4 linked regions of the Homo sapiens genome follow. The protein of the gene in region 4 interacts with the protein of the main gene of each other region in a pairwise test. Each region holds a gene or a part of one and is shown on either strand. Other genes may lie near its edges.

Region 1 (2,418 bases), on a different chromosome or scaffold from region 4:
CAGGATGAGGGGAAGCCATCGACCTGGGCTACAGACCCTGAGGGAAGTGGCCTGGGGGAGGGGCCCACACTCACACAGTCCACCACCATCTTGCCCAGTTCCTTGGCCCCAAAAACAGTCTTGGCCAGCTCCCAGGGGTTGCTGGGACGGAAGACATCCACACAGGTCACAGGCACTTGTGGGGACCTCCCTGTCCCCAGGGAGACAACGATGGAGAGTTTCTTCACCTTGTTGGCCTGACCCTGTTGGGAACAGGACAGGGGCAGTCAGAAGAGACCTTCCACAGGTAGGGGGCACGAAGGGGAGCGTCAAGGGGAGGCCCAAGACTGGGCTCTGGGGCACATGAGAACAGGGCAAGAGGTCTCTGGTGGCAAGAGCATGCCTGGCATGATTTCCAGCCAGCCTCTTGCACGTGACCCCAGAACGGCTGGTGCGGGCATCACATGCCATCTGCTCAGGACAGCATCTGTGTACCAACAGGACCACACATACACCAGCTGCAAGAAGGATCCCGCCCACCCCATCTGATGCTGGCCCAAGTCAAGTCGTGGCCAGGGGAGGAAAGGCAGACGGTGTTCCTTGGTGTTGGTGATTTGCCAGGTATTTGCATCATTACTTCATTTAATCTCCAGCCAGTCTGTGGAGAGGGCACTGATCACCCAGTTTGCAAATGAGGGCTCTCAGCGAAGCTCAGGCCGGGAAGCAGCTGCAGGGGCCACGTGGTAGGGAAGTAGGGGCTAAGGCTTGAACCTGAGCCCTGGGTGCTGCCTTTTTTTTTTTTTTTTTGAGACGGAGTCTCGCTCTGTCTCCCAGTCTGGAGTGCAGTGGCGCGATCTCGGCTCACTGCAAGCTCCGCCTCCTGGGTTCACACCATTCTCCTGCCTCAGCATCCCGAGTAGCTGGGACTACAGGCTCCTGCCACTATGCCCGCCTGGCTAATTTTTTTGTATTTTTAGTAGAGACAGGGTTTCACCGTGTTAGCCAGGATGGTCTCGATCTCCTGACCTCATGATCCACTTGCCTCGGCCTCCCAAAGTGCTGGGATTACAGGCGTGAGCCGCTGCGCCCGGCCGCTGCCTCTCTTATTTGCTTCCGAACAAGCTCTGCTGCCGATTTGCTGGATGATCTTGGGTGATGCCTCCCACTCTGGGTCCCAGGCTCCCCATCCGCACGCAATAGGAGAGTTAGACTGGCTAGTGTCTGACAGTCTGACGGTCTCTGCCGCCTGCAGGAAGCCCGCCCTGCCCGATCTGGCCCCTAGAGGGCGCTTCTCTGTCTGCCCAGAGCCTCTGCTGCGCTGCCCAGGACGCCCTGGGGCTTCGGGAAACCACAGCAGCAAGGATGCAGCTCAGGCTCCCGGCAGTGCTGTGAACATTTCACAGACAACAGCATGCCAAGGCCTCGCAGCCTCCCCAGGCAGGCGCTATGATGGCCCCATTAGGTAGCTGCAGTGAGTGCAGGCAGAACGGGGACCCCCAGAGGCGCCCTGGCTCCAGGGTCTGAGCTCAGCCACCGCGCTCGCCCACCCCGGTCACCCACCGCCCGCCACGCCACAGGGCCTCCCCTAGCATGCTGGGTCCTGCCAGCCTCTGCTGTACCTCTGCAGAGAGAGGGCTGCTGCTCTTCCTCCAGATCACTGATTCTGCACTGCTCTGTCCCCAAGGGCCTCAGGATGGGTCCCCTGTTCCATGGAGCCCTTTCCGAGCCCCCAGGCCTTTTAGCAGAGGCCTCACGGTCCTCCACCACAGCACCGGCAACCCGTGGGGACAGGCATTCCTGTGGGACTGTCTATCCACAGAGGTGAGCTCAAGGGCAAGCATGTGTCCTGTCCCCAGGCTGGCTCGAGTGGCACGTTCATGGTATGCATGCCGCCCTCCCCACTCATGCACACTTAGAGCACAGTGGTCCTCAGATCCCCCTTAGCACAGTGCTTCAGGCAGATCCCACCCATGGAACAGGTTCCAGTGAGATCAATTTGCCCTGTGTGCACATATGAATGAGTGCGTGTGTAAAAGCCACCTGCTGTCCTGGGGGTCGGTCCCTAGCATGGTTTGCTGACACAGGATTGGCTCCAGGGAGCAGTGGGTCCAGGCCCTCTGGCCTACGGCACTCACCTTGCGGATCAGGTCCTGATTGTACTCATGGATCTCGGTCATGGCATCCAGCGTGGGGTTGTTGGCCAGCAGCCCACCGTCCAGGAAGCGCCCATTGGGTCGGAAGTAAGTAGGAGCTGCCCCGCTGCTTCGGGCCGCCCGCCACACCAGCTGGTCTAGGGGCGGGGAAGGAGGGCGGCCCAGTGGCACAAGGGACTGGCATAAAACCCATGCACTCCAGATCTCAGGGTGTGCGTGTTGGGGGCTGGGGGTGCGGGAAGAGGGGAGGCTGGGAACTCTTCAGAAGCAGGACCCACGAAGCCAC
Region 2 (3,127 bases), on a different chromosome or scaffold from region 4:
AGGCTATGGGAGCCCTCACTTCACTGCACTGTACTCCTCGGTCCCTTTCCCTGAGGGGGAAGCCTTTCCCCCTGTCTCCGTCACCACTCTGGGCTCTCCCATGCATTCAAACTGAGGTGCCTGCCCTTCTAGGAATGGGGGACAGGGGGAGGGGAGGAGCTAGGGAAAGAAAACCTGGAGTTTGTGCCAGGGTTTTTGGGATTAAGTTCTTCATTCACTAAGGAAGGAATTGGGAACACAAAGGGTGGGGGCAGGGGAGTTTGGGGCAACTGGTTGGAGGGAAGGTGAAGTTCAATGATGCTCTTGATTTTAATCCCACATCATGTATCACTTTTTTCTTAAATAAAGAAGCCTGGGACACAGTAGATAGACACACTTATCTTGGTTTGTCCTTCAGTTACTGAGGTAGGGATGGGAATATCCAATGCTCATACCCAAGTGACCCTGAAACTAAGGTGCCATTTACACTCCTTAAGGTCACACAACATCAGAGGGAGAGCTGGGATTGCAGCCAAGTTTATTTGTACAGGGCCCTGTGATAGGCTAGTTCCCAAAAGCCTGTGATGCAAGAACTTTTGCCCATAGACTCAGTCACCATGTAGCTGTTACCTGTTCAGAGCTGGCTTTTTGCTTTCCCACCCTACTCTGGAATTCTTAAATGGCTTTATACTTAGAAATCATCTTATTTCTGTTGAACCTAGATCACCCCAACCAGAAACTTCTATTAATACTTTGTGCTTTCTTGATACCAGGGTCTATTTGGTTTCCACTTAAGGTTTTTGCATACTCTGCCCATAAGTGACTCATTAGTTACTCAAGTTTTATTCCTGGCTCTGCCACTAGTTCATTAGGGGTCTTTGCCCCAGAGTCATTTCTTCCATTTTAAAAACTTGGGCTCATTAAATCTAGGTAGGAAAGGGCGGGTGTGGCAGGTTTTAATAGAACAGGTCAAGATAAGGCTTTATTTCTATAGAAATGATGCTTTGACAATAGTTTGGCTTGGTGTAAGGCTCACAAAAGAAAATCACATGTACCATGTGTGGGTTAAGCGGTTTGATTCACACTGAACCAGGCCAGCCCAGTTGCCCTCTGCTGTGTCCACCCGTGGAGTGGAGCTGTGTCACAGCCATCACACTGGTAAACTGCTGTAGCTGGTTTACCAGGCTTTCTCTTGCCCTGACAGTACAGGTGAAGCCTGTAAATAAATCTTCTGCTATCTTTGTGAACTTAACCAAATCCCAGTTACCTTATTTAAATGGCAATAGATCTGTTTTCCCTTAAACTAGAAACCTTAATTACCTGTATTCCTACCTCCAGCTCAACCCATATATTTGCACCTTTCCAGTAAGCAGGTTTGTATTTCCATCTCTCCCCTTCCCCTAAGATTCTGAATTAGTTCTCCAGACCTTGCCAAGCACATTCTCCCTGGAAAGCAAGGAATATCACAGACCCACAAGAAGAGTAAATGCCCAGGAGTGAATGAAGCGGCTTGTCCTTGACTTGGAAATAAAAGCAAAGCTGTGAAAAGCCAGGTCGCTACGATTTTGTTGGCAGCAGGACTAGCCACAGAGTAGGGAAGTTTTGGGGCCAGGCCCTAGGTTTTCCCAGAATGCCTTGGGTGATGCCACCAAGAACCTTAAGAACTCCCTCTTACATTTTCCATCGGTTGCAGGCATGGCTTTTGCAACTGATAGGTGCTCTGACTACAGATATTCTGGTGTCCATGGCAACATGGCCTTATGGCTTGTAATAGTGGGAACTTCCAGCTCACTGGCAATTTCCTGGAGGTGGCAATATCTTTGGCAGGAAACCATCTCTTCTGTCTTGGCCACCAGGGTCTGCTCCAGGCCCTGAATGAGTCCACATCAATCCATCCTTCTTCCCTGTAGTCATTCCCTCCTGGGGAGGGAAGGGAAGGGGGGTATTTATCAGACCTATTTGCTCGCTGCTGTGTCTACTCATGGGCAGGTGTGTCCGATGGTGCCTTGGCAGTGGACCTTAGGTCTGAATGCCAGCCCGGCACCCTGGGCATCGGAAGTCGGCCTCCCTGGCAGCCTGGATGCTGCAGCCAACACAGGCCACATGGAACCAGACGTCACAGCCATCACACTGAACCCAGGCCACTGTCTCTTCCTGGGGCAGGCAGCAACAAGGAGCTGCACAGGGCTCCCCGCCCCCAACTGCAGGGGGAGCCATGGGAGCGCTCACTGGGTACTTCCGAGGACGGCCACGTCGATTTCTGAAGGAAGTGACACAGACACAAGGGTCACCGGAAACCTGTAGGAGAAGGCCTAGACCTTGCCACCCTATGGCTGGTCATAGGGTGAGGCCACAGAGGCACAGTGGTCTGAGAACTAAGGTGAGCCTGGACTCTGTCCTTAAAAACACATAGGGTGGGCCTAAAAACCTCTAGTATGAGCCTGAAAGTTCCCCATCCTTAGGCACTAGAAGAATGGGGTTAAAGCCATATGAATGTAAAAAGCAGGACATGCTCACTCCGGTTGTTTTATAAGCACTGCCCCACCCCACCTCTCATGTTCTCCTGCACATATTTTTCTTTTCCTATCAGAGCTAACCCAGGTCTTGCCATTCCATCTATTCCACCTCCCGTGCCCATCCCCCCAGGCAGGGGGACCTCCTCACAGCCTAGGGATACAAGGAATCGAAAAGCAGTAAAACACTGAGAGGGCCAAGTGAGGACTCCACTTACCCAGTGGGAGTCAGTGGGGCTTTGTCTACACGGAGTTTCTTCCTGGGCTCCATAAGGACCGGTGGCGGGTTCTCAGGAGGCTCACTCTCATCATCCAGTTCCGCCAACACTCGGTGAACAGATTTCCTCCGATTGCGTTGTGGTGGAGCAGAAGGCGTGGTCCCCATTTCCCCAGGTGGGGCGGGAACAGGCAGGCTCTTTGGTCCACCCCAACTAGGGGAGAAGGTGAGGGGCTGGGGCCGGAGCTTGCTGAGGCTGCCTATGGAGTTTAGGATCAGTGTGGCCTTGGGGGCAGGGGAGAAGGTGCTGAGAGGCCGCTGTGGAGCCCCCTGGGAGGGCAGCATAGGCCGGAAACCAGCCCCAACCCGGGCTTCTCCCCTAGACCGTGGGATGGTAATGGCAGCAAAGTCCTGAGGC
Region 3 (4,178 bases), on a different chromosome or scaffold from region 4:
GGACAAGGGACACAGGAGGCTGCACCTTGCCTTTACTGTCTGTATAAGTAATAAACTGTCTGAATCTATCCAAGCTCATTGTCTGCTTACTGGCTGAGTCTGTCAGCCTGCTGGACATACCCCTAGAAAGCCTCTGTTCCCATCTGACCCCCATTCCCCACCTGCACAAATCAGAAGCTAAAAGAGTATTTACTAAAGCATGAGATGTGCAAAAATCACCCAAGATGACCTCAGGTGGCACTCACAGGTGTAGCATTAAGTGACTCCAAATCTCCTATCTACTTTCCAAACTTCTACAACCTTCTATCCAATATGGTAGCTACTGGCCACATCTCCTGTCTATCTACTTTCCAACTTTCTAGAACCTTCTATCCAATATGGTAGCTACTGGCCACATTGCCTTTCTAGCTACTTTCCAACCTTCTAGAACCTTCTATCCAATATGGAAGCTACTGGCCACATCTCCTTTCGATCTACTTTCCAAACTTCTAGAACTTTTATCCAGTATGGTAGCTACTGGCCACACCTCCTTTCTATTTACTTTCCTGCCTTCTAGAAACTTCTATCCAATATGGTAGCTACTGGCCACATCTTTCCAACTACTTTCCAAACTTCTAGAGCCTTCTATCCAATATGGTAGCTACTGGCCACATCTCCTTTCTACCTGCTTTCCAACCTTCTAGAACCTTCTATCTAATATGGTAGCCACTGGCCATATGTAGCTAATTAAATTTAAACTTAAATAAATTAAGATTAAACAAGATTCAGTTCTCTACTCATGCTGGCTACCTTTCAAATCCTCAATGGTCACATCTGGCCAGTGGCTCTGAAATGGATGGTGTAGATGTAGAACATCTCCATCATTGCAGACAGGTCCACTGAATGACACTGGTCTAGAAAGTCTTGGTGTGTTATTAGTGTGTCCTTAACACCTCTCTGTGTCTCACTAATCTCTCTCTCTCACTCTCTTTTTTGTTTTTTAATTTTTTTTTTTTTTACAAAAAATGATCAGGCCACATGCTTAGCAGCAAGACTATTTAGCTAAAAATTAATAGCATTAAAACATTATGTTTATTTTTACAGTTACCTTCTACTTTAGGCGGGTGATGTTGGCTTTCAATTTACGGCTGGGAGGGACATTTTTAGATCCAACACTGGATTCTAAGGATCTCCTGCAGAACTGCCTCATCCAGTGGGCAGGGTCTGTGTAAATGGCACCCTCCTACTGTTGGGCAGTGCGCAACCTGCATAATCTTACATGGCAGTCCTGCACACTCCTCAGTACTTCAGGAGGGCACAACAGTAAGAGCCTAGGGAGAGGGGACCTAGAATATCTAAAAGTCCTAGCACCCGTCTCTAGGTCCCTTCCTGTCCACCCTCTACCCCAACTCAGTGTCCCCCTAGACTCACGCTCCACTCAGCACTTTCAAAGATCGCACAGTCTCGAAGCCAAGCTCCAGCACGCTGGGGCACTCGGCCGTGAACTCGTGCCGCCGGCCCTGGAAGCCGTCCTCATCCCACACCACCATCTGTGCCAGGAAAAAAAAAAGGTGGAGATCCGCATCAGAGTCCCGTGAAGGGTGAGAGGTTGGGGGCTCGCCCCAGGATCTGGCAGGTAAAGCAGGGATTGCAAACTCAGATTCCTCCAGGAGCCAGGAAGGCAAGAGCAGTGATAAATGTGAGACACTAGACAGCACAGGTGCCAGGTAAATGGGTGGCCTCTTCCCAGTGCCACCAATGGTTGCCAAGTGGGAATGCAGGCCAGACCTTCCAATTTCTCAAGACAATCACTAGATCTGGACTTTTATGTGGTTCTTCCAGGCTTTTAAAGGCTGATGATAAATCCAAAAGCTTTATAAAACAAACAAACACACACAGAGATGGTCAAAGAAATCATGCCCAAAGACTGCAACCTCTGCCAAAGAGTGTAACAGGTCAACTTTGGGAACCAGAAGACCCAAATTCACATTCAACCTCCCTGTATGTGACATACAAGTCCCTTCTCAACTCTGAGCCTTGATTGCACCTCTGTGAAATAGGCATTTATAATGCCCCCCTCCTAGGATTCATGGGGACCTGAACCCTCCCCATACCCCCTGAACACCCCCTCCCCATGCCTCTTCCTACCTTCCAGGGTCCCGCTGACTTTGTGCATTGCAGGGTCATTGTGGCCCCTTCCTGCAGAAGAGAAGAACATTATAATCTTCCACCCTGACCCTCTGCTCTCCTCTTTATGCAGATGGCTGGCTTGGACCTGGTCAGGATCCACATAGGGAGTCCAGGAGTGACTGGGCTAGGGGCAATGCATGGCTTTGGCCTGTCCCTCTCCTGTCCTTTCCATCTGTCACCAATGCCATCTTCCATCCTATCCCCATCTCAAAACTCACCCTTGCTGGGTCTCATTGACTCTGAGCCCCACTCTGTATTCTCTTATCTGCTTGTTATGGGAAAATTTTTGTGGCTGCTGGTGGGTGGGTGCATCACCCCAGCGAGTGCTGAAATGCTCAGCATAAGAGAGCCCTTCCAAAGACAGCACCTAGCTCAAAGAGGTAGCTCTGATGGTGGAAATTTAGGCAATAGGGCTACAGGAATAATTTGTTTTTAAATGAGGGAAGCAGGTGCTGGTCTTGATGGTTGGGGCTCATCCTTGGTTAGGATGAGGATGGCATTCAGGATGACACAGTGACATCCCTAGGACTGGGGACCTGGGTTCCTCGCCTCCCAGAATGCTCACTCAGAACTCTGATCCCACCCCTCCTCCAAACCTGGGACTTACCGAGATAGGCCCAGGGAACATGTCAGATCTGAGACCAGCCGAGGTCGGGCTCTTATAGGCAGGGAGGGAAGAGGGGCCCCTGGGAGACAAAGCCCCGACTCAGCAACTGGGCCACAGAAACAAAAGCCAGCCCTGGCTGAAGAGCCAATGGCAAGCCGTCAGCAGCTCTGGCTTTAGCAGGGAGGGAAAGGACCAGATCACCACCCCCAGGGATCAGCCACGAAGAAGGAGAGAGGTGGAATATTGGCCCTCATCAGCCCCACAAGGTTCCTGACTAGAGCAGGAGAATGAGCACTAGATGAGGAGTCCAGAAGCATCCTTCCTAGCTATGTGAGCTCCAGCGAGTCATTTCCCCTCAATTTCTGCCTATAAAATGGGGCAGAAACAAACCATATCACAGAGTTGTTGTGAGGTTACATAACATGCCTGGTACAGAGTAAACATTCAGGAAATGCCTATTCCTTTCCTTCTCTCTTTCCCCTTTCTCTTCCAGTTGAAGCAATCCAGATAGGCTTGCCGTTAGAGGAGGCATTTGAACTAGACTCTGAAGGATGAGGAAGATATGTACAGAGTGAGATGGAAGGAGAGGCATTCTAAGAAAAAGTTCAGAGGTGGGAACTTGGGGCACATGTACAAGAAAGAGCTGGTAGCCCAATTGGCCTGGAGCTCAGGGGACCTGAAGGGAAGTGAGGCAGGAGAAGAGGGCTAGGCCAGGGCCTGCTGGGTCCACAAAGCCTGAAGATGAATCCGGATGGCACTGTGGGCAGCATAGAGGAGCTGTTAGTTGCAAACATGCTTTGCAAACTGTGGCACACTTGCCAAATATCCAGGACTTGTACAATTTGCTGTGTGCCTCTTGTCCCGAAACCCTGCCCTCTGAATTGGCGTATGAGGGACCTAAGAGGTCCCTCATACATACATACTTGTGTGTAAAATGGGTGTAACAAGCATAGGAAAACAGCATGACTGGAAACCAGATCATCTGAGATGAAATCCAGCCCTGCTTCTTTCTTACCATCCGTGTGACCTGGAGGACACCTGAGTCCTGCTCATGACCTGTAAAGTGGCCACACCAGTTTCCTTTTAAGAGGGTGAAATGCAGCTCTATCAAACGCATGACTTTAGGCTGGGCGCAATGGCTCACGCCTGTAATCTCAGCACTTTGGGAGGCCGAGGTGGGTGGATCACCTGAGGTCAGGAGTTCAAGACCAGGCTGGCCAACATGGTGAAACCCCGTCTCTACTAAAAACACAAAAATTAGCCGGGAGTAGCGCGGGCGCCTGTAATCCCAGCTACTAGGGAGGCTGAGGCAGGAGAATTGCTTGAACCTGGAGGCAGGGGTTTCAGTGAGCCAAGATCATGCCATTTCTCTTGACCCTGGGTGACAGAGCAAGACCCCGTC
Region 4 (3,500 bases):
CTGTCTAGCTGTCTGCTGCCCTATACACAGCTACATCTCCAGTGTCTAGAACAGTGTCTAGCACATTTTGACATCTATTTAGGATCCATACATATTTCTGACTTTAATTTCTTTTAAGAGACAGGGTCTTGCTCTGTCACCCAGTCTGGAGTGCTACTGCATGATCATGGCTCACTGTAGCCTCGAATTCCTGGGCTTAAGCGATCCTCCCACCTCAGCCTCCCCAGTAGCTGGGACTACAGGAATGCACCACCATGTGCAGTTAATTTTTAAAAATTTTTGTAGAGATGAAGTCTACCTATGTTGCCCAGGCTGGTCTTGAACTCCTGGCCTGAAGTGATCCTCTTACCTTGGCCTCCCAAAGTGCTGGGATTACAGATTAATTAGCCTGGCTAAAAGTTTTAATAGTGCAATTTTAAAGAGAAAATTAGAAGCAATTTATTTATCAGATAATAGAATAAACTTATGTTTTAGTCACTAGAAATTATAAATATGACAGTGGAAATATAAGAAAATACATATAAAATAATGTTAAGTTTAAAAAGGAGAACCTGGTGGGGCACAATGGTCCATGTCTGCAATCCCAATGTTTTGGGAGGCTGAGGCAGGTGGATTGCTTGAGGCTGGGAGTCTGAGGTTTCAGTGAGCTATAATCACACCACTGCACTCAAGCCTGAGAGAGTGAGATGCTGTCTCTAAAAAAATAAAATTTAATTAAAAAAAACAAGCTACTACCCCAAAAAAGTAGAGCCCAAACATTTACTTTATATGTCACATAAATATATGAATAACATGATTAAAACTCATGTATACCACTTTGGGAGGCCGAGGCAGGCAGATCACGAGGTCAAGAGATCGAGACCATCCTGGCCAACATGGTGAAACCCTGTCTCTATTAAAAATACAAAAATTAGCTGGGCGTGGTGGCACCCACCTGTAGTCCCAGCTACTCAGGAGACTGAGGCAGGAGAATTGCTTGAACTCGGCAGGCAGACGTTGCAGTGAGCCAAGATTGCGCCACTGCACTCCAACCTGGCGACAGAGCGAGACTCTGTCTGAAAAAAACAAACAAAAAAACCCCTCACGTATACACATAATGTATATGTGTGTATACACCATTTATTTAAGAGACAGGGTCTTAGTCTGTAACCCAGGCTAGTGTGCAGTGGTACAATCACAGCTCACTGTAACCTCAAATTCCTGGGTCAAGCAATCCTCCCATTTCAGCTTCCCAAGCAGCTGGGACTACAAGTATGTACCACCATGCTTGACTAATTTTTTAAAATTTTTGTAGAGACAGGGTCTCACTATGTTGCCCAAGCTGGTCCTAAACTGCTGGACTCAAAAGTGATCCACCCACCTTAGCCTCCCACAGGGCTGGGTATTTATTTGAGTAACATCAAAGTTGGTTCTCACTATGTGGTTTCAGGTATATATACCACCCATGACACATGTCAGAAGCTAGAGATTAGAGGGAGATGAGAGTTTACAAAAGGAAGGAAAAAAAGTTTAAAGAAAACAGGGCAGGACATTGTTTGCCTGAGGGAGAAGCACTAGCGTCTAACCACAGGTCTGTAAAAGGAACAATATGACAGGCAGGGTGGAGTAAAGGGTGGTGTATGTAATCAAGGAGAACCATTCCACAAGTGCCATCCCGGCAAGTCAGCAGATAATGAGAACCTCCAAACTAAAGACTGGCAAGAACTAAACATGGATGGCAAATCCAATGTGAAGGAATGAAAAAATCTGCCGATCTTTTAAGACCCAGGAAGAAAGTAATTCATCAGAGACCTGACAGTGGAATTAGGGAAAAAAGCCTCTCCAAACACACTCTAAAAGTGGCAAGCACTTCTACCCTGAGAGAACAGAGCAGAAAAGACATAAGCAGCAAGCTTTCAATAAACGCCTGCGAAAGAACGTTAAAATCCCATCCCACTGAGGTTGCACTTTACTCTTTGATCTTCTTCAGCTTTATCCTGTAATTCTTTTTTTTTTTTTCTTTTTTTGAGATGGAGTCTTGCTCTGTTGCCCAGGCTGGAGTGCACTGGTGCGATCTGGGCTCACTGCAAGCTCCTCTTACCGGTTCACGCCATTCTCCTGCCTCAGCCTCCCGGGTAGCTGGTACTACAGGTGCCTGCCACCACGCCCGGCTATTTTTTTTTTTTGTATTTTTAGTAGAGGCGGGGTTTCACCGTGTTAGCCAGGATGGTCACGATCTCCTGACCTTGTGATCCGCCCGCCTCGGCCTCCCAAAGTGCTGGGACTACAGGCGTGAGCCACCGGCCTATCCTGTAATTCTTATGCTGTCTCAATAAATGTTCATCGTATTTCCTAAACTAGACTACAGATTCTGCTAGGAAAACAATCTTGTCTTTATTTTCTTCCTCATCCTTTTTGTGAACCTTTGAGTGCTAATCTAGAAAGTAATAAATGGTAATTTTCTAAAAATAGAGTGCTTTCTAGGATCAACAGGTAAATATACTACTATGAAAACAAACACACAAAAAAAGAGAAACTCATAAGTATTTACCTGTGTGTTCACTACTTCTTGAGATAACGTTTGATTGAGTGGTGGATACATTTCAAGTTTTATATTTAAAATTCCCACAGAAACTTTTGATTCTGTGCCTATAAACATAAATATTTTGAACTTCAGAGATTTCAATACTATATATATTTAGTCAACCAAAGTCTAACCAAAATAATTTAGGCACTTGGGTGTTTTATCACTTACATGGAATAAAGATAACATTCAACATTACCTTTAATATTCATATTAAAATGAACCAAATCAATTTTTTTAAACAAAGGTGTTTAATTATAAGGAGATTATTTTCTTAGCTTTCTGACACTCTTTTTCTTCTTTAAGTAGAGATGGGGTCTCCCTATGTTATTCAGGTTGGTCTTAAACTCCAGGGCTCAAGTGATATTCCTGCCTCAGCCTTCCAAAGTGCTTGGTGGGATTACAGGCATGAGCCACTACACCTGGCTTTTCTAACAGGTTTTAAGAAACTTTTCTGACTTAAAGGATTTGAGACTCTTAATTTTTGTCTTAATTAAATGTATAATATCAACCAGACTTACATTAAATTCAAAGTCAAAGCAACTGTTAACACCTCATTCCTTCTCCACACACACACACACACACACACACACACACACTAAAAATTAGAAAGCATTTATATTGTCACTTATAGTAACTCCCATTTGTCACTCCCCATTATCCAATTACAGGCTGAGTAGAAATTTTCAATCCATGCCTGGATTTAAAGAACTAGAAAACAAATATACTTCACATCAAAACGATTTAATGTTTCTTCAGTGAATCAGAATCTGCTTGTTTCCAGGTCACTGCTACGATTATCATGTTAGGCCTATTTTTGAAGACAAATTGGGTATTGTTTTTGAAAATAAATTTCTTACATAAAGGACACTTTTTCTATAATTTTTATTTAAAGAAAAATACATTCTTGGTATGACTTATTAAAATCTAAATTACT

What was found. Proteins that work in one complex are often made in the same cells at the same time.
Region 1: the proteins of CEP76 (region 4) and PLA2G6 interact in binary tests that used the Homo sapiens proteins (3 or more experiments, as listed by UniProt).
Region 2: the proteins of CEP76 (region 4) and TCF19 interact in binary tests that used the Homo sapiens proteins (3 or more experiments, as listed by UniProt).
Region 3: the proteins of CEP76 (region 4) and CRYBA4 interact in binary tests that used the Homo sapiens proteins (3 or more experiments, as listed by UniProt).

What each region holds. Positions count from the first base shown.
Region 1 is NC_000022.11:38,113,413-38,115,830, forward strand, and holds part of PLA2G6 (85/88 kDa calcium-independent phospholipase A2), read right to left. Parts: intron 2,270-2,418; coding exon 2,115-2,269; intron 243-2,114; coding exon 75-242; intron 1-74. UniProt on the Homo sapiens protein: Calcium-independent phospholipase involved in phospholipid remodeling with implications in cellular membrane homeostasis, mitochondrial integrity and signal transduction.
Region 2 is NC_000006.12:31,161,589-31,164,715, reverse strand, and holds the end of TCF19 (transcription factor 19), read right to left. Parts: coding exon 2,711-3,127; intron 2,240-2,710; coding exon 1,999-2,239; 3' UTR 1,900-1,998; coding exon of another isoform or gene 1,890-1,899; 3' UTR 501-1,889; downstream 1-500. Other genes in the region: POU5F1 (POU domain, class 5, transcription factor 1), read left to right, coding at 1-115. UniProt on the Homo sapiens protein: Potential transcription factor that may play a role in the regulation of genes involved in cell cycle G1/S transition. May bind to regulatory elements of genes, including the promoter of the transcription factor FOXO1.
Region 3 is NC_000022.11:26,620,585-26,624,762, reverse strand, and holds the start of CRYBA4 (beta-crystallin A4), read right to left. Parts: upstream 2,801-4,178; 5' UTR 2,777-2,800; intron 2,179-2,776; coding exon of another isoform or gene 2,167-2,178; coding exon 2,128-2,166; intron 1,530-2,127; coding exon 1,411-1,529; intron 1-1,410. UniProt on the Homo sapiens protein: Crystallins are the dominant structural components of the vertebrate eye lens.
Region 4 is NC_000018.10:12,692,724-12,696,223, forward strand, and holds part of CEP76 (centrosomal protein of 76 kDa), read right to left. Parts: intron 2,629-3,500; coding exon 2,531-2,628; intron 1-2,530. UniProt on the Homo sapiens protein: Centrosomal protein involved in regulation of centriole duplication. Required to limit centriole duplication to once per cell cycle by preventing centriole reduplication.